Linked DNA regions of Homo sapiens: regions 1, 2 and 4 are each linked to region 3. The links come from fine-mapping of genetic effects on gene expression. A gene starts in region 3. Each other region holds a variant in brackets. All regions are shown on one strand. Distances are from middle to middle.

Region 1 (4,532 bases), 42 kb before region 3:
TACTCAAGGGCCATGAGTATGCAGGAGAGGTCAGGCCTCTGTCCCATCCCTCCCTGCTTTAAAATTTCGGAAGAGATTGGGATTCAAGTCACAGGATGGGACGTAGGGTGCGTATGCACCTCGATTATCTGAATTCCATTAAGCTCTGGAGGCTTCCTGGTTCCACCTGGGGTAAAGACAGATGGATTAGCAAGTGTTATTGTGGCACATCAATAATCCAAACTGTGGTGGCTCTCAAACTTGTCTGCACTTTGGAACCACCTGGGGAGCGTGTCCTGACACGCTCAGAGATTGGGATTTAATTGGTCTGGTGAGCACCGGACTTTGGAATGTTTTTAAAGATCCTCGGGTGATTCTGATGAGCAGGCATGTTTTGGAACCATAGGGTCAAAGCAATACTAATTGCTGAACAATCGATACACCTTATGTCATTTAGTCCCCAGAAGAACTCAACTATTGCCATTTCCCTTTTTACAAAGGGGAAAAGACGTTAAAATGGTTAATTTATGTAAGATTGCACAACTAATGGCAGAGGAGCCTTAAGGCCCTCATACAGAAGTAGGCCAAAGTTGAAGAATTCCAGGCCTAAAGCATATCTTACCTTATTTAGTACTCTTGTTGCTGGTGAGGTTTACCATGAAAGTATAGTGAGAATTTGGAGGAGAGCACTATTGTATTAGGTCCCTGGAATGTAAACTCCATGCAAGCAGCAACATTTTTCTTTTGGCTTGGGTTGTGTGTGTGTGCCCAGCTCCTGGAATGTAACACAAGCTTAATATGTATTGAATGAATTGCTGATTAAATAGATTAATGATCATTAAAGTGTATAATCATCAGTAATTCAGTCTTAATCCAGTGGCTTATGATTAATAAAAAATAATCTTTTTAAACACTGGAAATGTTATCTAGTTGTAGTATTACAATTTTTATTTTTACCTGTTTTCTTGAGAGCATATAAAAATATGTTTTCTGCTTTTCCTTTTTGTTTAGTCTTATTGAAGGCATTCTTTCACTTTTGTTACTTTTATTATAATTAGCATTTAGGTCCTGTGCTAGTTGGTTTCTTAACTGAAAAGTGGGTGCCATAATATACTTCCTTGTAATTTTTATTGCTATCGTTCCTTTCTAATTTGATCTCGAGGTCTCTCTCTTACGAGTGGCCATAAGCCAGAACAGCCACTCTTCAGGAGAGCCCTGGCCCAGAGAGGAAAGCTAGGTTCTGGTGTGCAGGTGAGACGCCAGAGGAGGCAGCACACAAAACATGTGAAATAACAGGCGCATTTTATTACTTACAGATTCACCAGAGAATAAGCCTGATGGAAGTCTGGAGATAACAGGACTCCCAACCAGCAGGTGGGGTGCAAGAGAGAGGACCTGTGGGGCTGTGTTAAGGTCCAAAGGCTTTATCCCTTAGGCTTTCCAGAGGGGGTTGTGGATTGACTAGTTTAAAGAAAACACCAGCAAAGGGAGAACTTGACTCTGGTGTTGACCATTGGGTTTTATCATGGTTAGCAGCTGTTGGGTTTTTGGTCATGGAATGAGGAATAAGTGTTCTATATCACAGGGAGGGGAAGTTTTAAGTAGGCCACAGGTGACGTGATACAACTGGGTTTCAAACAGCTTATATCAGGCCTAAAAATGGATGCCCAGGCAGCAACTATATTAAACAAGTTTGGCACAATACTTGACTTCATAGCGCCACTACCACACCTGTATCAAGCATTTAAATATCTGTTGACTAACTGGGTGGATAAATAAATGAGTCTATCTATGAGAGCAGGAAGGCAAATCGAATTAGTATTTCTATTAATATTGATCTTTAAACCTCCCTTTTTAATCTAAAGGTGGAGTTGTTATAAAGGTATTCTTCCTTTACTTAATCTTGAGTGAAGAAAAGTAGAGTAATAAAGCTCTTGTTATACTAATTGCTATAGAATAATTTTATATAATTAAACATTGACAAATTTTAACTAGAATCTTAGTTTTGTTCTTAGAGCAGATATATCAATTTAGATCTTCCATGAATCCTTAGATCCTTAGATCTTATATACTGTATATTAACAATGTCTAGCAGACCAACTTGTAGAGAAAAAAGGGCACATTAAAGTATTCATTCATATA[C/T]GTAGTATGAAGCAACATTTTTCTCTCTGTCCTTTTTATATAAATATAATTAGTTCCATGTTTTGCATACTTTGGGGTAACAGATGTAGCTTCCTTGTTACTTAATACCAAGTTATAGCAGCCACAATATGAGAATATCTTCTCTGCATCAGGCATGTGAAAGTACATACCCTGAAAAGTGAACTCCTCTGGGACCCATTGGTAATAACAATTCTAAGATATCACTTGAAGAGTTTAGAAAAAATAAACCCCAACTGAATCATGAGGCAGAGCATGCAGAGTTGGAAGTTCCTGGAGTGGTTTCCATTTTGAGCTTCCAAGTAGGCAAAATAATGACTCCCCAAAGATGCCCATGCTCTTATCTCCAGAAGCTATGAATATGTTACCTTACACTGCTAAAGAGACATTGCAGATGTGATTAAGTGAAGGATCTCAAGATGGAGGGGAGTAGCCTGGATTATCCAGGTGGGCCCTGTGTAATCTCTGGCATCCTTATAGGAGAGAGGTCAGAGTTAGAGAAGGAGGTATGAGGATGGAAGCAGCCATCAGAGTGCAGAGGGGTGGGAATGTAGGCAACCTCTAAAAGCTGGAAAAGGCAAGGAAACAGGTTTTTCTCTTAGAGCCTGCAGAATAATATAGCCCTGCCACCCCATTTTCAGATTTCTGATATCCAGAACTGTAAGATAACATACTTGAGTTGTTTTAAGCTGCTAAATCTGTGGTAATTTATTATAGCAGCAAGAGGAAACTAATACAGGCTTCACACTGAGGAAGATTCTCATTTGGACTATAATCTGCAAATGAAGTTATACGTAGTTAGAAATGCAGTAATATGATTGAAAAAATAAGGCACTGTTCATTCAACTTTATGTCTCGTTACTAGAACCCCAGTATTGACTTTTAAAATAAATCCTTTGTCTTGTGAATTTAAAAATGTATTATAAATGTTTAAAGCATAACTTTGTTAAATGTATACCACGATTTCATAACCTGGCTTTGGCATGCCTTTAATTTTTTAAAGTAGACTAAGTGTAGTTTTAGGTTCACAGCAAAATTGAGAGAAAGGTACAAAAATTTCCAATAGCTCCCTGCCCCACACATACATAGCCTCCCACATTATTAACATCTCCCACCAGAGTGGTACATTGGTTACAACTGATGAACCTACAGTGACACATCATTATAACCCACAGTCCCTAGTTTACGTTAGAGTTCACACTTGGTGTTGTACATTCATTCTATAGGATTGATAAATTTACAGTGATGTGTATCCACCATTACAGTATCATGCAGAGTAATTTCACTGCCCTAAAATCCTCTATCCTCTGTCTATTCATGCCTTCCTCTCCTCTAATCCCTGCCCAATCCCTGGCATCCAATTATCTTTTTACTGCCTCCATGCTTTTGCCTTTTCCAGAACATCATATAGTTGGAACCATACAGTATTCTTTTCAGATTGGCTTCTTTCACTTAGTAATATGCATTTAAGTTTTCTCCATATCTTTTCATGGCTTGACAGCTTCTTTCTCTTTAACACTGATTTTTTTTTTTTTTCTGGATGTACTGTGATGTATTTATTCACTCACCTACTGAAAGACATCTTGTTTGCTTCCAAGTTTTGGCAATTATGATTAAGCTGTAATAAACATCTCTGTGTAGGGTTTTTTTTAATTTTATTTTAAGTTCTGGGGTACATGTGCAGGATGTGCAGGTTTGTTACAAAGGTAAACGTATGCCATGGTGGTTTGCTGTACCTATCAACCCTTGACCTAGGTATTAAACCCAGCATGCATTAGCTATTTTTCCTAATGTTCTCCCTCCCCACTCCCCATCTCCCTACAGGTCCCGGTGTGGTTCCCCTCCCCGTGTTCTGATTATTCAGCTCTCACTTATAAGTGAGAACATGCGGTGTTTGGTTTTCTGTTCCTCTGTGCAGGTTTTTATGTGTACAAAAATTTTCAATTCCTTTGGGTAAATACCAAGGAGAAAGATTGCTGAATTGCACGGGCAAAAGTATGGTCAGTTTTGTAAGAAACGGCCAAACGGTCCTCCAAAATAGGTATACCATTTTGCATTCCCACCAGCAATGAATGAGAGTTTCTGTTGCTTCACATCCTCACCAGCATTTGGTGTGTCAGTGTTCTGGATGTTGGCCATTCTAATAGGTGTGTAGTGGTATCTCAGTGTTGATTTAATTTGTATTTATTTGATGACATATGATGTTGAGCATTGTTCATATGCGTATTTGTCATGTGTATCATATTTGGTGAGGTGTCAGAGTCTTTGGCCCACTTTTTAGTTGGGTCATTTGTGTTTTTATTGTTCAGTTTTGAGAGTTCTTTGTTTATTTTGAAGAACAATTTTTTATCTGATATTACTTTGGCAAATATTTTCTCTGTGGCTTGTCTTCT
Region 2 (5,044 bases), 260 kb before region 3:
GATACTGGTTAAAAATTGAGATGAAATTTAAAAATTGCGTATCTATGTTATTTAGCAAACTGTGGTGAACATGTATTTCCTAGCTCATTAAAAATTGTCACTCTAATCACCTAAGTTATAATTTTGCAATTTACACATTTTAGTCTACATTTTCCTTTTTAAATTTTTAAATGAATTTGGCATGTTGGACAAAAAATTTTTACACACTTCCATCTACAATGTCATAAGCATCAGAAAACTATATGACAATTGAATTGAGGAAAGGTTAATCTGAATCAAATTAATATCCAAACAATATAAACCAATTAAAATTCTGAGATTTTGCAGCAATATGAGTAGGACTGGAGGCCATCATCTTAAGTGAAACAACTCAAACAGACACTCAAATACCAAGTTTTCAGTTATTAGTGGGAGCTAAATAACGTGTACACATGAACAAAGAGGGGAATGATAGACATTGGAGACTTGGAAGCAGGGAAGTGGGGTAAGGGGGAAATTGATGAGAAACGACATAATGGGCAGAATGTACACTATTCAGATGGTAGATACACTAAAAGCCAAGACTTCACCACTACACAACATACGCATGTAACAAAATTGCACTTGTTCTCCCTTAAATTTATACAACAAAAAAAACAAAACTGAGAAGGCACAGAGTCAGCAATCATTTAGCCACCATACCTAAGTCAAACTTTGGAATTTTGAGTCAAACTACAGAATTTTGAGATAATTCATTCAAGTTTAGCACCAAGTAAAACTGAAAAGTCATATAGAGATAGTTCCCTGTCTTCATAAGCTTTGATAAAGCCAAGGCATCTGTAACAGTAGAATCAAATGTAGTAACTTCTGTGACTTTCCTAAGATTTTTTAAAAATCATAACTTGGTAACGTTTTGGATTCTTACTGATTATTTTTCTTTACTGTATATTTTACATCAGAGAATTCATAATTCAAAGACCTAGAGGAGATATCTCTCCACGATTCTTAACACATATGCTTTCTTATTAAGCCCCAAATACAGACCAGCTGAAAAGATCTTTAATCTCAATGCAATATACACAGCACTTGGCAAGACAGAGGCTTGCAAACAACTGTCCCACAGGCAGCAGAAGGCAAAACAGCTATTCACCATTACTTATGTTCTTGAATTCACAACAACGGCCACATTTGCTATTGCTCAGCTAACCTCACAGGCCTGAGGAGATAATTAAACTCTAAATAACAAAAGGCATGCATTTTTAACACCCAATTAACCTGATGTAACCCTGATTTACATGACTTGAGAAAGTTACTGGTGAAGAAAATCCATGTTCTCATGATGTTGCTGGCAAAGCCTGGTGTTCTCAATTCATTAGAAAAACTGAAATTATGATATAGAAGGTACAACTGTAAAAAATACGAATGAGACTCTGAAATTATATTGGCCAGGTCACTTGTTAAAAATTACACCCCCCACACCAGTTGTGTTTATGCAGTTGCTTAAACTGGTAATTTTTAGGCTAAATACGATACCTTCATTATTAAAATTGCTACCAAAGTTCAGAAAGATTTGCCACTGAATGTTTTAATGTTTGCTCTATAATCAGCATGCTTTAGAAACCTTATGTAACCATTTTCATCTAAAAAGTCAGACTCAAGGATCATGCTTATTCCTTTCTCCATGGGCTAGAACTGGGAAGTGAGTAACTAGATTTGAGCAACTTCTTATCTAGGGGCTTTGGCTTATTTCCTCTTACTACAGTGAGAAAATTACAAGCAAATGTCTGCTAATGCTGGACTTTTTTAAACTATAAAAGAAAAAAAAAAAGATGATCCTCCCTAAAGAGCCAAAATCCTTTAATATCATCAAAACATCTTAAATACGAAGCCAGAAATTTAATAAAGGGATAAGAGAATTAAGGTGGTGAATATGGCACAATTAAATGTAAATCTTAGTAATATTTAATAAAACATATTATTCCTACTTAAAATTAAAAACCAAACAGATCAAGTCAGAATCCAAGATACCTAACCAGTAGACAAGCAAGAAATGACCTGACTCTTCACTGAAAGGCAACTAGAAATAAATAGTATAATGCAGATAGGTGTATTCTAAAACCACAAATGCATACCTTCATACATTAAAAAATTGTATGTGGCTTAAGATTTAGTGACTGGTATATTTTCACAGAAGCATATCCCCAGTGGAGGGTCAAAATATTTTTTTTGTTACCTTACTTTACAGTAAGAATGGAGCATAAGGTTGGCTCAGACCAATGATGTAAATACATACCAGTAGGTAATATATAGTTTAGTGGTCCATATTTTAATACATTTTATATTGTGCTGATTTCAGCTTGCAAGCCTATGAACAAAATTAAACTTCCTTTACTTGCGTCCTAACTTCAATACTTCTAATACAAAAGTATTTGTGGTAAACAAAAAAAAGCAGTATGTTCAATAGTGAACTTTTAGTTTCTTGTGTTTCTGAACCCCTCTTTTGAAAGATTTGTCTGTACATAAGATCTGTGGCCTAATTATTTTTATTGTGACTTAGAAAGTTTTGAGCCATAAGTACAAATTCTGAACCTTTTTTTAAAAAAGAACATAGTAAAAATTAAATGATTACAAGGTAAAATTTTAGCTGAAAAAAGTGGCAAATTCTCTGTGGTACTCTTTTTGAACACTATTTCTTTATATTCCTCCTTACAAAGTGTTTTAGAATGATACAGTGATTACAAACATACA[T/C]ATAAACAATGATAAAAGCATAACAATCATGAATAGTGTCTGTGTGAAACATCTGTGTTTTTCCTGTCCATTAAAATCCAGAGTCTAAAAGGAATTACTGTAGATATGTTTATTATTAAACCAACTCATTTCTAAACAGCATTAGCACATTGTCACTTTCCATTCAGTAAGAGGAAGTTTGAATCTTAATTAAAGTATACTTCCTTACCAGTTGTCAAAGGTGAGTAATGAGATGGATGAAAAACTAATAAATCTTGCTATTTTCTATAAACAAAACCAAATGCCAAACATTACACACCTTTCTGATTCTCCGTGAAGAAAGTCCTTTTATAATCCCATTGTGATCAAAATCAGAAACATTGATAGGATTCTCAGAGACTATAAACACATGACCTTATTTTGCAAACTATTCTCTTTACTGAGTGGGAAAGAAAGTAAGGGATTTTGCATATGACCAAATTCTACCACTCTTCCACTCTCATTCCTGGAAAATGGTTCTTGGACAGATAGCTCCTGATTTTGGAAATCACTTACCTTTGCTCTAAAATGATATACAGCATCTATTAGGCAATACGCTGCAAATGTTTCAAAGCATTCAGTCTTATTGTCACTGACTTAGAATGTCAAATCTTTAAAATTAGGTTGACTTCACATTTCTCCTACCTAGTTTCATTTCCTACCCTTCATGCTTTCAAGTCCTCAAGCATGAACGTGATGCTCTCCAATGGATTCCGTTAAACACTGCAATTTCACAGTTCCTTGTACAGCTGCTTATGCAGTTTGGATAATTAGTGTTGCATAAAGTGAAAACAAACAAAGATATCTCCCTCACTCACATATTATTCAAGGAAAGTCTACATAAAACTGCTGCAAGCAGGATACACACATTTTATTTCAATGCACTAAAATAATGCCATGTACATTAGAAAACACTCAGTTTTGCAAAGCCTAATTATTCAGTTTGTTCTTTTAGACTATTTGTCATGCCATTATTTCTTCACTATTTCATTACTCAAAATATCAGAAACTGGACAAAGACTAAAATCAAATCCCATTTTAAATTTTTCATTGATATAAGTAATAGAGCAGGAGTTTTACTGAGTAAATAGTTATAGGAAATCAGATCAATATCAATGAAGTATATCAGTGTTTTCCGTAAGTCCACAACATGTTTTCCTGAAGACTACCAGTAGGATTCCACTTGTCAAATTGCCTTCTTTTTGTTTCTATTCCTCTTGACTTAATATACAACTATCCCCTGGAAATACCTTTCTACAACCTCTGAGACACAGCACCTTTTGTATTACATGCTTTTACTGTATGCATCTCAACTTTCTCAATTGCAACAACACTATTTTCTAGCAATTATTTTGTAACACTGACTTCACTAACCTGAATCAAAATAATATAGCCTACCTATGCACCCCCATTAATATGATGCTTTAATTAAAACATAAAACTCATAAAGTGTCAAAAATAATTCCTTTTGTTATGACATGAGTTGGGATGGTGAGGAAGTCTCACAAAAACAAGGGATAAGGGATAATTTTTTAAAAATAACTTATACCTCTATTTTTGCCAGTTTAATATGTCTTAAGTAAAGCTCCAATCTCCTCTATTTACATACTTAACACTACTTTCATTGATTTTGCAGTGTTCTATACTGAATCTCCTTTCAAATACATGAGTTGGAAAAACAATACATTAGGTAAAAAAAATTGCAGTCTGTAATTTCATAATTTCAAGATAAAGCATTTAATTTTCTCACTTCATAAAGATCTTCTAAATTATGGTGTCTCTATGGAACCTCCCTTTATGACACACAGAAGCTGCCCTGCACCAGGTGAGAGAGCATGGCAGGCGGGGTGAACATTAGCCGTCCTCTTCTCAACTCCTCCTATACTATTGTGTGTCCCACCCTTATCAAAGAAGGCTATCTTTGGCTAATTCATCTTAAAAATTTGGTAGAACAAGGTAGAGAATAAGTGTATATCACCCATTCTTCATATGTATGCCTGGGTAATTTTGAAGGATATCATCTCCAGGTATATGAATTCCTTGAGGACTGAAACCTTGTTGGAAGTTCATACTACCCCTTAGTGGCTGGCACATTATGTTGTATATAATGACATTGGGCACTTAGAAAATAAGCTGGATGTTTGGACTTAGAATGAATAGAAAGATTTGAGTCTTTCCATGCCAATAGCATTCCCACAAACGTGGTGAACATTCCTAAAATCCACCAAATTTTCTGTGAGAAGTGTGGCAAGCACCAACCCCATGAAGTGACACAGGGCAAGAAGGGCAAGGATTTTCT
Region 3 (5,044 bases):
ATTGGCTAATGTCTGCAAGTGTTTTTAATTAGGCTTTTTAAAAATCTGTTGAGAAAAAATGTGATAGCCATTTAAATATTGTGTATAATGCATATGCTCTCGGTAATATTTTATTTCAATTATAGACTTTAGCTGCAGAGACTCAGACATACATGTGTACAACATCTGACATTTTGCATATCAAACTTAATAACTATGTTTTAAACATAAATTCCCAAACTATCTTTTAAAAAATACAAACAGTAACATGTTTGAAATGTAAAATGCCACTACAACTCAAGACTCAAAGAATATAAAAGCCCCTAAATCAGGAACGTATGGTTGCCATAACAACTTGGCTACATTTCCATGAATTTTATGGCAGAAAAATGCCTAACATGTCTGATTTACAACTGCAAAAGGAACCACGGTGTTCATTTCCTGAATATTGGTCATGGCAAACTTTTTGTTTTAGTTATTTGGATTTGATAGGTATGTTCTCTAATTGGCTGTTTCTTGTTACATGCCTTATGTAATTAAAGCAAAAATTAATCTTTAAATATTTTAAGTTTTCCTTACCCTTGCTTTGTTATCTAAACTTGAGGAGAATTGCCTATAACAAGCTTGAAAAGAAATCAAGGCTTGCCAACCAGGAAAAAAAAAAAGGATGTTTAAAAGTACAGGCTGCTGACATTTTACAAATAAAAATGATAAGGGACACTGAAGTGGTTCCACAAAAAGTACTGAAAGATACGTCGAAGTAGAACTGAATCAGGAGTTTCACTTCATCTCTGTATGCTAGTACTTCTGAGGTAAGAGATATAGCTTAAGGGGAACGTGATAGTTGTGGAAAAACTTATGTATATAGACATGCATGCATAGAAATCTAGAATTGTGGGATTAAAATGTAAAGCGTAAATTGTTTGGTTGGACAGTGTGCTCAGCGTGCCTGATTCTGCCTCCAGCTCACCTTCCTGCAGCTGCCTCAGGAATGCACCTGGAAATAGCCAGAAATAATTTTGTCTCGTCAAGCTTTCTGTTCCTGTGTATATACAGATTTGGCATTTTTGCAGTGACAGTTCATTGACAACGAATACCCACCACATTGCTCAGTAATCTAATAATAATCAGATATGTCCTGTGTACTTAAAAGCAACCAGCTTCGTGAAAGTTAAAACATCCTAGCTTTCTTAGACATTAACAGTCAAATTTGCTTTGACTTTTCAAAAGTCAAAACTACTTTTCGTAGTTGAATGGAGTGAAGAAGGAGAGGCAAAAGATTTGTGTAAGATTTCCTGCGCAGTGTTTCTCTCTCTCTCTCTCTCTCTCTTAAAACCTGATTATTAGCATATGGCCTCTTCTAAAGGAAAAGATAGAAACAAAAGTTAGGGGTAATTTGAATCCCCCTAACCAGTGGTCAATTAGTGTGTCAACTAAGCTGTTGTTTTACATCTCTTAAGTTACAAAAATGTCCCCAGTCTGTCACAGAAATACACAATTATCTAAATTTTGAATGGGACAACAAGGAATTATTTTAGAAAAATGTGATTCTCCAACATTTTTAGTTTATCCCTCTTTTACATTGAGCATCATCAAAACTTTTGACTATCTCACTAGACATATTTTAGAAATCCAATGTAAACAAATTTTTTCTCCTGGAAGCTTCCTTTTTTCCCTTGTGATTCCCTATATTTATTTGTGGATGGTAACTAATAATATATATTAGTTACGTTTATACACTTTACCAAAATTGCATATGCCCTGAAATAAATTGACAAAACAACCGGAACTTGAGCTATCTAAAACAATACTTTTTAAAATGGTCATTTTGCATGATTTTGACAAAACAATAGTTTAATTCCTGGAAATGTTTTCTTTGTGGATGTTTGATAAAACTTCAGTCTGTGCTTGCACTATTAAACCACTGTTTTAGTTAGGTTAACTTTAAAATCACTACCTAGGGAAGAATGCCAACCTGCACATGCAGCAGATTACTCCCAAATTGTTTCACAACATATATACGGTTCAGGTTAGTTACCAATAAAACAATTCTACAGGAATGTGAGCTAATGCTACCAGAAAAGAAAAAAAAAAACTGTACAAGTAAAACACACTTACTGTTCCGATCCAGTCCAGTGTTACTGAAATGCCTGCCTCCATTTCTGGCTTGATTCAACGTGCTGTTGCTGCTGGGGTGTGCTGGAACAGGTTTAACCACATGTGAATAAAGGATTTCTGTGGCATCATTTTTAAAAGCCAAACAGCTTTTCATTAGGATGCATGCAAGGGGAAGGAGATAGAAATGAATGGCAGGAGGAAGCATGGTGAGTAGAGGATTTGCTTGACTGAAGAGCTGGTTAATTCTTTTGCTTCTGCTTCTGCACTGTAACTGTGAAATTCCTCCTCAAGCTTCCCTTTATATATCCATAGAGGTTTGGCGTTCATTCAGGTGTAAAGTTGTGTAGAGCTTCAGAGTGAAAACACAGAGAAGGGGTGGGATCCCTACATGACCCTGCAAAAGAATTTTACCAATGGAAAAGAAGACTGCAGAAAAGGAGGAGCTTGGTATACAAATTGCCTGAAATTTCAGAGTTGGACTTCATCACTTGTCTGTGAGCCGACGCAGGCAGGCGTATTCTATATCAACGACAGACTCTCCTCTGCCATTTCCTTTCCTGAATCTAGTTAACATTCGGGTTTAATTTAAACGAAAATACATCGCTGTTCATTTGAAGAGACTGGCTTTCCCACAGTTGTTCTGTACTTTCCTCAGATTTTAGAGTATTTGGGTCAGAAAGGGAGTTCTTCCCAGATAACAGGAGGAATTCATGTGAGTTTAAATATTGCAGGACTTGCATGAAGCACCTAGTTAGCTAAACATTGCTTTCTCTCAAGAAGCAAACCAATATTTTTTTTTCCTTAAAGTAAAAGGCACAGAGCTAAAACCTGCCCCCTGGACATGCTTAAATAATGCAGCTTTGATCTACAAGAACTACTGTGCTGCTAGGTAAATTATTGCCAGGGGTTTTGTGTGGAGAATAATGAGCATAGTTCTGTCTACATTAAAGTAAGTAATACTCATTTTTGTCTTAAAAATGTGTCACAAGCATTAATATCCATAGCATTGTTTTACATAAAGCCATTTGTGACAGACTTTTTAGCGGATTCAAAATAATTTTTTCTAGATTTTTTCAGAACACAGATTCTACTCGTATTTACTAAATATTTTGCTCATTACTTCCTTTGACTCTGCTGCCCAAGTAAGAAACCTATTTTTCTGAATTACTTTACCGGCACCCAGAACACGTGTTCCATTAATTAATTATAGGCCACTGATGATCCCTTTAAAACAATCATAAAATTCTATTTCATCATGGGACATCTCAATTGGAATAACTATTCTGAATCATCTTTTCAATTATAAATCCATTTTTGTCCTTTGTGTGGTTACCTAAATCACCTAATTTTGTATCTCTTTTCTGTATAAGCTTTTGTCCCTTGTAACTGCCATTTGCCTATATGTCTGCCTACCTGAATTTCTCCATAGCAGCGCTACTGGCATTTTGGAAGAGACAGTTCTTTATTATTGGGGGACCATCCTGTGTGTTTATCAGCATCCCTGGCTTCTAACGACTAGACGCCAGTAGCACCCCCCTAGTTGGTAACAAAAATAACTCCAAACATTGCCAAATGACCCCTACAGGGTAAAATCACCCCCAATTTAACCACTAATTATCTATTCATCTATCTCACTATAAAAGAAAGTAAAAATAAGTATAAAGGAAAAATATTATAATACCAAGAAATTATTGTTCTTTTTTAGGACAGAAATGGTACCGTAGTTTTGTTTTAAAACAATGACTGCTTCTCTATTAGAAGTATATACTGGAATATCCTTAGATGAAATGATTTTATATCATCTTTTACATTATATGGAATAAGCTAGAATAAGCTTCAAAAATAATATGAGGAGGTTAGAGGTGTGAGTGGCAAAAGATTAATTATAAGTTGATGGTTGTTACAGTAGGATGGTAAAGTATTATATTCTGTTTATTCTTGTGTATGTTCCAAATTCTACATAATAAAAAGTTTAAAAACCAGAGTCAGACAATCAGTTTAATGGACGTATACTTCCTACTAACAATATATCTCTATCCTACGATTGGATAGTCATTTATTCTAACATCCTTCCTGGAAAATCATATGTCAGTTTATTTTGTGCAAATGGAGATTACAGGCATCCTTCTAAAATACTAACTATGAAGAATTTCCTGCCCTACTTATCAGGGGACTTGATGTTAATTACACAAAGCATGTTAATATTAATCATTGACCTACAGACCCAATGCCTAAAGGAAATTAAAAGGTCAAAATAATCTAATCTGTTCCTCACTACTTTTTCTTTTTCTGTGTCAGAAGCAGGAGATATTTTAATTGGAATTTAATTATCGGGTTGGGCTAATGAGGTTGACCAAATTCACGCACAGTTATTAAATCTGCTGCACCTAGTATTCTGAAGGCTCAGCCTTAGGATATCACCTCAGGCAGAAGCAAAATTAGAAGAGAAGGCAATGTCGTTGTGCATGTGGACAGGACAAACTCAGAGTTCTTAGGCCCAATTTACCCGACAGACCCCTAGAGAACTATTTTGAGGCTGGGTGCAGTGGCTTCTGCCTGTAATCGTGCACTCTAAGAGGCCAAGACAGGAGGATCACTTGAGCGCAGGAATTCGAGATCAGCCTGGACAACATAGTAAGACCTTGTCTCTGCAAAAGTAAAATAAAAACTAGCTGAGCATGGTGATTCATGCCTGTAGTCCCAGCTACTCGGGAGGCTGAGGCAGGAAGAACGCTTGAGCCTGGGGTGTTGAGGCTGCAGTGAGCCATGATACCACCGCAACACTCTAGCCTGGGCAAGAGTGCGACCCTGTCTCAAAATAAATGAATAAATAAAAAGAAAGAAAACTACTTTGCTAAAATAGAAATAATCATAAATTTAATACTTAACAGTTATTCTGATCAGTTTAAAACAGCTCCATTAAAAATAACCACAAACTATTGCTTCT
Region 4 (5,044 bases), 210 kb before region 3:
GGCTAGCCATAAGCAGAAAGCTGAAACTGGATCCCTTCCTTATGCCTTATACAAAAATTAACTCAAGATCAATTAAAGACTTAAACATAAGACCTAAAACCATAAAAACCCTAGAAGAAAACCTAAGCAATACCATTCAGGACATAAAGATGGGCAAAGTCTTCATGACTAAAACACCAAAAGCAATGGCAACAAAAGCCAAAATTGACAAATGGGATCTAATTAAACTGAAGTGCTTCTGCAAAGCAAAAGAAACTACCATCAGAGTGAACAGGCAACCTACAGTATGGGAGAAAATGTTTGCAATCTATCTATCTGACAAAGGTCGAATATCCAGAATCCACAAGGAACTTAAACAAATTTACAAGAAAAAATCAAACAACCCCATAAAAAATGGGTGAAAGATATGAACAGACAGTTCTCAAAAGAAGACACTTATGTAGCCAAGAAACATGAAAACATGCTCATCATCACTGGAAATGCATATCAAAACCACAATGAGATACCATCTCACACCAGTTAGAATGGCAATCATTAAAAAGTCAAGAAACAACAGATGCTGGAGAGGATGTGGAGAAATATGAACGCTTTTACACTGTTGGTGACATTGTGGAAGACAGTGTGGCAATTCCTCAAGAATCTAGAACCAGAAATACCATTAGACCCAGCAATCCCATTACTGGGTATACACCCAAAGGATTATAAATCATTCTACAATAAAGACACATGCACACGTATGTTTATTGCAGCTCTGTTCACAATAGCAAAGTCTTGGAACCAACCCAAATGCCCATCAGTGATAGACTGGATAAAGAAAATATGGCACATACACACCATGGAATACTATGCAGCCATAAAAAAGGATGCATTCATGTCCTTTGCAGGGACATAGATGAAACTAGAAACCATCATTCTCAGCAATCTAACACAAGAACAGAAAACCAAACACCACATGTTCTCACTCATAAGTGGTAGCTGAACAATGAGAACACATGGACACAAGGAGGGGAACATCACACACTGGGGCTTGTTGGGGAGTGGGGGGCTGGGAGAGGGATAGCATTAGGAGAAATACCTAATGTAAATGACAAGTTGATGGGTGTAGCATACCAGCATGCACATGTATACCTATGTAATAAACCTGCACATTGTGCACATGTACCCCAGAACTTAAAGTATAATTTTAAAAAAATGTTGGGAAATACATGGCTGAAGCTTAGGAATCAGATTAGAGCTGTGGAAGTTAATTTGGAGTCATCTCATCCAAAGACAAAAAAAGAGGACCATACTATTAAACAGAACTAACTTCACATGCCTGATCAGGGCCTAGCAGTGTGCTAGAAACTACATTTTGCATTCATTCACTTTCATCCTTATAACAACTTAAGAAGTAGAGTTATTAGCCTTGTTTCTACGTCGAGGAAACCAAACCTCAGAACAATTAAGTAACTAGACCAAGAAACAAGTGTTCTGAGTTCAAAGCCTTTGTTATTTTCACTACATTGGACGGCCTCATCACCATATCTGGGAACACGGAAAAATGAAATTTCTAAGCAAGTAAATGTGGAGAGAGGAATAAAAGGCCAAACACAGAACTTTGAACTTATCTCTATCCTACAGAGCCTCAGAGGCTTCCAACATTGGATATATTCCATATTGTTTCTAAAAATCTCAATGAAAGCTTGTGTTCTATGAAGATCAATTACATAAGAAGCTTGGGTTTCAAAACCAGATGCAACCATGAAAGTTATCTTTATGGTATATGACCAAATAAAGAGGCCACTGAATTAATTAAATCTCCCATAGTTGCTAATTTGTTACTACTTGCATTACTCAGTCAAGAGTTATTTATATTGCAAATTATCTTTATTCTTTATTACTAATCCTACCTGACAAGAATTAAATTCCCACAGTATGGGATGGGCCTGAGCTTTAGGAACTTCGAAGCTGCTAGGCACTTCTGAGAATTTATGGTCTGGAACCCCTTCACACAGCAAAATGCTACCAACTATACATTCTGCTCCTC[A/G]GCCAATTTAGAGGACTTGGGCTCTGATTTTGTTCCTTCCTGAGTTTACTCTCTGATAGTCCCCTCTGCTATATAGTTTAATGGGCTAATCAAATAAATTCTGCATTAAATGTATACTTTTAGATTTTCATGGAAAAATCTCCCAAAATTTTTCATAGGCCATTCTTCCAGGAATTCTCTTTAATTCGTGTTCTACTTTTGCTTTCGGTGGAACAGAGAAAATGAAACAACCCAAGAATCAGCTTTCTTCCACGAGGTTTTTTCCTCACATTAACATCTGGAATGCTTCCCTAATGGTATTCTGATAATATATTAAATAAAGCTGTTTTACATATCCAAACAACCAGTTGACTTAAACCGAATACTTTGCCATTTTAGTGAAGGAAAAAAATATGAAATTGGTTGCTGGGTTGAAAAAGATTTCCAAACCTGTCAGTTCAACCAAATGATTGCAATAATAAAGGCATTCAGTCATAGAAGTCATAGCTAGAGAGTAAGCAGAGGAATCCACAAACAAGAGTTTCTTTTGAGTATGGGTCAATGCTCTCAATTGGATGAGTTTTTAAAAATATGTACATTGAGTTACAAAGAAGGAAGCATAAGTTTGAGAAAAATCTGCATTAATTTCACTTACTGAAACAACAACAACAGGATATAAAATGCAAAGACTACTCTCTTCAAGCATGCTCAGTAACTTCTGGGTTTCTTGAAAATCAGAGGTTGTAACCTAAAAGACCAGAAAAATAAAAGGATATGAGAAGACGTTTTTAAATGACTTAAAACTTATTTCAAGGAATAAATGGAGAGATTCTGCATAACATTCAAAATATTTATCAAACTTAGTTTTTAATTTAGAAACAATTTTAAAGGATATCCATAAAGTTATACATGTCAAATTTTTATCTACTAATTGAGTCAAACCTGCCTCTTATTACCTACTTTGGACCAGGTACAAACAAAATTGAAAATATTGTCCAAAATACCACTCTTCTCATTATGGGAATTAGCTTGTTGAAAGTATTATTTCTCTTTCAAAGATAAAATCTCCAAAAATGTGTAGAAGAACTCATCATAATATCATATATAAATATTTAAGAATCAAATTAGTTCTCTTCCACATTTGTTCATATCCTTAAGTGCCTTCAATCATTTGAATTGACTTACATTCACACAAACAAAATTGTAGCATTGATCTAAGATGATTTGCTGAAGATGTCTGCCAGCATGACCCAGAGCCTCAGATGTGACTTTTACATGCTAGTAGGAAAAAACAGAAATGAATTCACAAATTAGATAGACCAAACATAAACATCTTTGTTACAAAGGAACACATAATTGCTAGAAGGCCCATAAAGCCAAGGACCATATATTTTTTAAAAAAATGAAACATGCTGAAGTTCATCAGGCTATCAAGAAATAGTCATTTGAACTAGGCTATGAATAATGCATATTTTAGCAAACAAGGATATAGAAAATTGTTTCACATAGGAAAAAAATATGGACATAAACAGAATATATTCTGGAACAGGCTAGTAGTCTGGTTTATCTTATACAAATAAATATTGAAGAGCATGTTGAAGGACTAAAAGAGAAAGGGTGCAGTGATGATTGCAGGTATCTGGAAGCACATAACACAGTTTTAATACAGGGAATAGACTTCACTAAACCTGAAATAACTAGAAATGGGGAAAGCAGTAAGAAATCATCACAACAATATAAGTGAGAGAGAATTAAGACTTAAACTACACAAACTATTCCTAAAACTGTCGGGAACTTACTTCTACTACTATAAGTAGTCCGAGATTAGATTAGATTTAGAGAAGAACACATATTATGCAAACTTTCCTAGTAAGATTTTTTATTCCATATAGTTTAATATTCTAATTAGCTTCTTTTAAGATTTTTCTATCATCACAATATGAACAAAAACTTAAGAATTACTAGACAAGGGATCTGTGATATCTTTGCTATAATAATTCCACAGGAAATCACATTTCAGTGATTCTTACTGGTATTACATTTAGAATGCTTTACATTTCATAGTTCTAAAAATAATACAGTGCTGTTCCTTGGTGAAACATCAAACTCTGTAACTCTGTACATTATCTATTTAGTAGCTTAATTTGCTATAATTTTGACAAAATACTGGAGAATGAGAAAGGAAAGTTTTCAAGGTCTTAGCTTTACTCTAGAAATTAGTTGGCTATTAAATTTTAAAAATTTTAGTTCAGTTTAAAATTCATATTGAGCATAAAGCTCAAAGATTTTTAAGAAAAAAGCCAAAAAGTCCATAGTCATCAACAATATATTAACACCACAATAAAAAAAGAAACCAGTATCCATTCTGCGATAGTAAGTTTGATCAAGTGGTAACATCTAGATATTACAGGGAGACAATTTTTCAAAAGTCCTTCATGTATTCAAACATTTTCAAAGGCATTAACAGCTAACTTGTTCCATACTTCCTTTGCAAGGATGTTTGTACAAATTGCAGAGATAGAGATATTTCTTCCTAGAACAGATTTATTTTCCAGTAAGATGGGGACATCTCTCTCTCTCTGGATTAGGCTTACTTGGCATTCCAGAGTTATCTCTTGAGGAGCAGATGGGCTGATTTGCCTGTATAAGGCCAGGGTTTCCTACTATCAAGGTTCTTTTTAAAGAACTCTACTGCCCAGCAACAACTAACTCTAATTGCATCTCTCCATGGAAATTGGAATTCAGAAAAAAACCGAGTGCTACATTTTTGTTCTTGCTACTGCTGTGGTTATAAATGGTCTTTTCTCTGACTCTGTAGTCTCAGATCTTCCACCAATATCTATGATACTGTGTCAGGCTGACTTATTTGCATGCAAGTAAGGTATAGTCTCACATCCTGCCAAGTTTCTGACTTCACAGATATGAAATAAGGCAACCATATCACCAGATCTTAACTTCAACAAAGATGCACAAGTGAATTCTGAACTCAGAAAAAAAAAAATCTTACTTTAAAATTTCCTTCTGCATGTAGAGAATGAA

Which allele goes with the higher level. Positions count from the first base shown, and alleles are read on the strand shown. Sizes are in standard deviations (SD) of each study's normalised expression.
As copies of T replace C in region 1, the expression in gastroesophageal junction of the gene that starts at base 2,372 in region 3 goes down (small effect, 0.35 SD a copy in GTEx).
In carriers of allele T in region 2, the expression in thyroid of the gene that starts at base 2,372 in region 3 tends to be lower than with C alone (moderate effect, 0.41 SD a copy in GTEx).
In carriers of allele A in region 4, the expression in aorta of the gene that starts at base 2,372 in region 3 tends to be lower than with G alone (small effect, 0.33 SD a copy in GTEx).

What was found. PIP is the estimated chance that this variant, and not a neighbour inherited with it, causes the effect.
Region 1: its variant is the best candidate, but not a certain one, in a credible set for the expression of SOSTDC1 in gastroesophageal junction (GTEx, PIP 0.80).
Region 2: its variant is the best candidate, but not a certain one, in a credible set for the expression of SOSTDC1 in thyroid (GTEx, PIP 0.79).
Region 4: its variant is the best candidate, but not a certain one, in a credible set for the expression of SOSTDC1 in aorta (GTEx, PIP 0.59).

What each region holds. Positions count from the first base shown.
Region 1 is chr7:16,421,685-16,426,216 of GRCh38, forward strand. It overlaps LOC105375168 (a long non-coding RNA gene), which reads left to right. Exons shown (of 5, transcript XR_007060223.1): 2 at 1,296-1,353. Among named protein-coding and RNA genes, the nearest start is that of CRPPA, 2.4 kb to the left of the region's middle. The variant C/T (reference allele first, on the strand shown) is at 2,122.
Region 2 is chr7:16,203,999-16,209,042 of GRCh38, forward strand. The region is part of intron 9 of CRPPA (CDP-L-ribitol pyrophosphorylase A); the gene reads right to left. It also overlaps the pseudogene RPL36AP29. Among named protein-coding and RNA genes, the nearest start is that of CRPPA-AS1, 4.0 kb to the right of the region's middle. The variant T/C (reference allele first, on the strand shown) is at 2,728.
Region 3 is chr7:16,463,367-16,468,410 of GRCh38, forward strand. It overlaps SOSTDC1 (sclerostin domain containing 1), which reads right to left and starts at 2,372. Exons shown (of 2, transcript NM_015464.3): 1 at 2,098-2,372. The coding sequence starts at 2,302. The region is part of intron 4 of LOC105375168 (a long non-coding RNA gene); the gene reads left to right.
Region 4 is chr7:16,255,730-16,260,773 of GRCh38, forward strand. CRPPA (CDP-L-ribitol pyrophosphorylase A) reads right to left here. Exons shown (of 10, transcript NM_001101426.4): 7 at 3,191-3,283; 8 at 2,661-2,753. All of the region lies in intron 3 of CRPPA-AS1 (CRPPA antisense RNA 1), which reads left to right. Among named protein-coding and RNA genes, the nearest start is that of CRPPA-AS1, 48 kb to the left of the region's middle. The variant A/G (reference allele first, on the strand shown) is at 2,027.